Regions from separate parts of the Homo sapiens genome. Here region 1 is linked to region 2. Evidence: fine-mapped expression QTL. A gene starts in region 2. The other region holds a variant in brackets. All regions are shown on one strand. Distances are between the middles of the regions. Region 1 overlaps NETO2 (neuropilin and tolloid like 2). Region 2 holds the start of NETO2 (neuropilin and tolloid like 2).

Region 1 (2,725 bases), 30 kb after region 2:
TTGAATTTTTATATACTAGCAATGAAAACTGTAGTTCAAAATTAAGAAAACAGTACCATTTAAAATATTACTCCACCAAAAAAAACTGTGTAGTATCTGTTAACTGAAAACTTAAAAGACCATAATGAAAATATTCAGAGATGACCTAAGTAAATATACTGTGTCAATGTATTGATAGGCCCAGTAGTGCTAAAATGTCAGTTCTTATGAAAATGATCTACACAGATGAATACAATTTCAATCAAAATCACAGCTATATTTTTTGTAAAGATTGACAAACTGATTCTAGAATGTAATGGAAAAGCAAGGGATTACAGAAGCCAAAATTATTCTGAAAAAGAACAAACATGGAAGACTCATGACCTGATTTCAAGACTTAATGTGAAGCTTCAGTAACCAAGACTGTGGTACTGACAAAGGACAGACACACAGATCAATGGAACAAGATAGTCCAGAGATTAGATTTCTGCAAATATGATTTGTTAATTTTTTTGACATTCAAAGGAAATTGAGTGGAGAAAGGATAGTCTAACAGATGGTGCTGGAACAATTGAACCTCCATATTCAAAGAAAAAAAAAATGAACCCTCACCTGTTGAGTGTAGGTGTTGCCTCACCTACATCCAACACTGTATTTAAAAATTAACTCAAAATAAATCATGGACATAGATGTAAAATTATAAAACATTTAGAGGAGAATATATGAAAAGAATCTTACTGGGTTAGACAAAGAGTTCTTAGATGCAACACCGAAAGAGTATCCATAAAAGAAAAATTCAGGCTGGGCGCGGTGGCTCACATCTGTAATCCCAGCACTTTGGGAGGCTGAGGCGGGCGGATCTCGAGGTCGGGAAATCGAGGCCATCCTGGCTAACACGGTAAAACCCCGTCTCTACTAAAAATACAAAAAATTAGTTGGGCATGGTGGCGGGGGCCTGTAGTCCCAGCTACTCAGGAGGCTGAGGCAGGAGACTGGCATGAACCCGGGAGGCGGAGCTTGCAGTGAGCCGAGATCATGCCACTGCACTCCAGCCTGGGCAACAGAGCGAGACTCCATCTCAAAAAAAAAAAAAAAAAAAAAAAAAAAAAGAAATTTATAAATTGGACTAATGAAAAAGCTTTTCTCTGTGAAAGACACTGTTGAGTGAGAAAAAAAAAAAAAAGCCACTGACTGGGAGAAAAAAAATCACCTATGAAAAGATTTCTTTCATCCAGAACTCAAAACTCAACAATAAGAACAAAACCCAATTATGAAACAGATTTCAACAGATACTTCACCACAGAAGATTTAATCATTACAAAAATGCAAATTAAAACCACA[A/G]TGAGATGGCACTATTCTCCATTAGAATAACTGTAATTTAGAAAAATCACTAAGTGCTGGGAACTATGTAGAGCAGCTGAAACTCTGATACAGTCCTGGTAGGAGTGCAAAATGATAGAGCCGCTCTGGGAAACAGGTTGGTGGTTTCCTATAAAGTAACTGTGTGACTCAGCCGTCTCTTCTGGATGGGTACCCGGGAGAAATGAAAGCTTATGTTTATGGAAAAAAACCTATAAGTAAATGTTCATAACAACTTTATCTGTAATAACCAAAAACTAGAAATGTTTCAAGTGTTCTTTAGCTTTTAAAAGAATAGGCCAGGTGCGATGGTTCACGCCTATAATCCCAGCACTTTGGGAGGCTGAGGTGGGGGGATCACTTGAGGTCAGGAGTTCAAGAGTAGCTTGACCAACATGGTGAAACCCTGTCTCTACTGAAAATACAAAAAATTAGCCGGGCCTGGTGGCAGGTGCCTGTAATCCCAGCTACTTGGGAGGCTGAGGCAGGAGAATTGCTTGAATCCTTGAGGCGGAGGTTGCAGTGAGCCAAGATTGCACTACTGCACTCCAGCCTGGGCGACAAGAGCAAAAACTCCATCTCAAAAAAAAAAAAAAAAAAAAAAGAATAAACTGTGGTACATCCATATAGTAACATCTATTCAACAATAAAAAGGGATAAACTACAGCTACATGCAGTAACCCCAAATGCATCATGCTAAATAAAATGAGCTAGACTCAAAGGATACATGCTGTGTGATTTCATTTATATGAAATTCTGGAAAAAGTGAACTGTAGGACAAAGAACAGATCATTGCTTACCAGGGATGAAGACTGGAGATGGATTTTGACTGCACAGTGACAGCACAAGAGAAGTTGAGTGGGTTGTGGAACTGTTCTTGAAGTGTCAGCAAGGACTGAGTAGTGGATTGAGTAGAGCAAGCAGACTCAAAGAATTTGCTTTAGAAGTATAAATTGTCTCGTTAGAATTCAACTGTAAAGAGAAAAATGTATATAAATTGGTACAACCACTTTGGAGAGCTATTTCGGATGTGCTCTGGTAAAGCTGAAAATGGTCACATGCTACTACACAAGTATACTTCTAGATGTATACCCAAATGAAATCGTCATACCTGTGCATAAAGAGAAGACAACAATGTTTACAGCAGTATTAGCTAATTATAAAAGTAGAAGCAAGCTAAATGCCCAATAGGAGAATGGATACATAGTGATTTATTTCTATAATTGGTATGAGGTTTTAAAATATATGGAACAATACAACATATTTTTATAGATATGTAAGTATGAAAATATTAAGTGTGCTTTAAGTGAAATTAAACAATATTTATTAGATCTCATTCTTCATTGAAATATTCCTTGAAAAGATAATTCCATATTCACAAATTTTT
Region 2 (3,020 bases):
GCTAATTTTTGTATTTTTAGTAGAGATGGGGTTTCACCATGTCGGCCAGGCTGGTCTTAAACCTCTGACCTCGGGTGACCCGCCTGCCTCAGCCTCCCAAAGTTCTGGGATTACATGCGTGAGCCACCTTTTCATATCCGTGGGAAAAAGTTCTTAAATGTTTTATTTCCTAATTGGTTCTCGTGTGCGATCTTAACTGTAGTAGGTGGTTACCTTTAGGAACCCAAACTTACCCATCTTTTATGCCCCCATTCACAGCACATGGCAAAGGGTGAAACACCTCGATATTAATTGGTGTTAAGTATGTTTTTCCTTTGTAAATCTCATGAATTATTTATGCTTTTGTACCTTTCTTGAAGGAATACAAAGTGAGAGAGAAGAGCTTAACACCTGAAAAATGTTTCAGTTGCCTGACATTGTCTTTAGCTACAATTGGTTAGACAAACGTTTACAGAGTTCCTACTACACGCAGAGACAGGCATAAATATTCTATTATGGTAAGGCCTTGATCACGGTTGTTATCTCCAGCACCAATCATTGTCTTCTGCACATAATTAACACCCAATACGTATGTGTGGAGTGAAAAAAATGAATGCAGTCGGCCTGCCTGCAAGCAGCTGATATTTTAATGGTGTGAGGGTGAGGGAGATATAAAGGATGAACAAATAAATAAATGAGGAAGGTCATATCAGTGTGATAACCGCTGTGGAGAAAATAAAGCAGGATCATGAATACCACCAACAGCCAGGCAGTTGTTGGCAGACCTGGAGACTCCCATCAGCTGGCGAAGCTGCCCAGCGTAGTGGTTAGCTGCTAGGAGGGCAGCCCCGGGGGAGGTGCACAGCCCTGCCGCTCATTCGCTACGCGGCTCTGGACGAAGGGCTTCACCTCTCTGGCCTCGACTTTCCAATCCCCTAAAACCTACTTCATGAGGGGGAGTCTGAGGAGTTGGTACTAAAGTGCCTGTCAACCTGGCGGGCGCTAGGGAAACGCCGGCAGCGCCGCGGGTCGGGAACTCACCGGCGCGAAGGGCACGGAGAGCCTCGGGCTCCCTCTGCCGATGTCCGCGCTTCCCTGCCCAGGGTCGAGCAAGGCTGAGCTGGGCAAAGTTTTGACCTTGAATGGAGGTCTGGGGGACTAGGGACCGGCGCCCCTCTCTGTCTGCTAGGGCTGGCGGAGACCCGGCAGGCCGGCGAGGGTGCGGGGCCGAGGTGGGCGGCGCTTCCCGGGCGCCTCCGTCAGACGGGAGGCATCGAGGGCTCGGCCAGCTGCCCCGGGCGCCCTGCGCGGCGGCTGGGCACGGGCCGGTCACTGCCCCGGCGCCGGCCTCTCGGACGAGGCCGCCGCGCAGCCACGGCGAGAGGCACCCTCACTACCCCCGCGCCCAGCCGGCTCCCAGCCCTAACGGCAGCCGGCGGGGAGCGACGCCGTCCCACGGCGCGAGGCCGCGGCGGGCGCGCGAGGCGCGGCGCGGGGCGGGGCGGGGCGGGCACATGCGCACAGGCGGCGCAGCCGGCACGCGGCGCTCGCGCTCCCTCCTTAAATGAGCCTGGGCGCCCCGCGCCCGCCACTTCAGTGGATCCCGCGCCGGGGCCGCGGGCGGAGCTGCCTGCCGGTCCCGCGCCGCGCGTCCGCACTCCTCGGCCCTCGGGCGGTCGATGGGACGGGGCGCCGCGGAGCAGGAGGCGGCGCCCGTCGGGGTGCTCGGGCCGCGCGGGAGCCCACTGTGGGGCTCGGGCATGGCGGGCCGCAGGACCTGAGCTCTCCTCAGGGGAGCGGGGAGGCAGCTGCTGGCCGGCGATGGGGACGGAGTGGGGCCGTCGCCGCCGCGCCGAGCCGTGAGCGCCGAGCCACCGCCGCCGCTACCTCAGCCCTTCGCGAAGCGCCGGGCAGCTCGGGAACATGGCCCTGGAGCGGCTCTGCTCGGTCCTCAAAGGTAAGGACCGGGGCTGGGGCCACGGACGGCGCCCCCTGCGGGCCGAGGCTGGCGCGCCGCCCTGCCCGCGCCTCTGCGTCCCTTACCCGCGCCCGGGACCCGACGCGCCTCTTTGTCTGGCGGGGCTCGCGGCTACTCGGAGCGGACCGCGGGGCGCGAGCCCTGCCCGGCTCCGCCGGCTCTCCGGGCGCGCCGCTTCCGACCCCTGCGAGTCCGGCCGACGTTCGCGGGGCGCGTGTGGGAAGAGGGATCGGGTCGGGAAGGCGGCCAGGAGGCCCCTGGGCCCAGCAGGGCCCTCCGGGCTGCGCCCTCGCGCCGCTTCCGTAGAATTCCGCGCATCCCTTTGCAAAGTTGTGAGATTCCTGTCGTGGAGCGGAGGCCGCTCTTTCTCCAGATGTGATGGCAAAAAGTAATTCCACGAGAACAATAAAAGCCGCGGCCGTGACGTCGTGCAGTGGTTTTCGAATAGCCCCGCGGCGCCTGCACCTCGCGGCGGGGAACGGGGCCTGCTGGGCCAGCCGGGTCCCACCTGCTGCGGCCACGGAGGCTGCGGCACCACTGCGGGCTCCGGGGGCGGCGCGCGGGCGCCGCGGACCCGGCTTGTCCCGGCCCCCGGGGAGCGCTGCTGCTCGGGTGCTTCCCGGGACGCGGCGCTCCTCGCGCTCCGCCAGAGGTCTCAGAATTCCCCGCCGCTGGTGTTCGGTTCTTACTAATTTGTTGTACTGGGAATTAAAACAGTTGGCTTGTCCAGAGCACAGAGCTCTAAAACCTACTCCACCGGCTTTGCATTTCCCAGGAGGTGGTAATTTAGATGAAAATTTATATACATAGATAATTAGGATTGGGATACAAAGTTGCTCCTGAAACTCGGACTGAATAAATCGTCTTTTCAATTTCCAGAGGGAAAACAGCACCACCACTCAGTAAAGGACTTCCCTTTTTCCCCCTGCTGATTTAAATTGAAAGCTGACGTGTTTGTAATGTCGTAACATGTTCTTTTTTTAAAAATTTCGAGGGTACGGCTGAGGCATTATTAACGGTGTTATGTATAACTCAGCACTGTATCTTAATATTTGTAGAGTGA

Evidence for each region. PIP is the estimated chance that this variant, and not a neighbour inherited with it, causes the effect.
Region 1: its variant is the best candidate, but not a certain one, in a credible set for the expression of NETO2 in whole blood (TOPMed, PIP 0.51).

What each region holds. Positions count from the first base shown.
Region 1 is chr16:47,112,803-47,115,527 of GRCh38, reverse strand. All of the region lies in intron 6 of NETO2 (neuropilin and tolloid like 2), which reads left to right. Among named protein-coding and RNA genes, the nearest start is that of NETO2, 30 kb to the left of the region's middle. The variant A/G (reference allele first, on the strand shown) is at 1,321.
Region 2 is chr16:47,142,495-47,145,514 of GRCh38, reverse strand. NETO2 (neuropilin and tolloid like 2) reads left to right here and starts at 1,570. Exons shown (of 9, transcript NM_018092.5): 1 at 1,570-1,936. The coding sequence starts at 1,903. ITFG1-AS1 (ITFG1 antisense RNA 1) reads right to left here and starts at 1,447. Exons shown (of 4, transcript NR_110904.1): 1 at 1,021-1,447. RefSeq lists silencers at 1,040-1,369, 1,430-2,269, 2,440-2,589.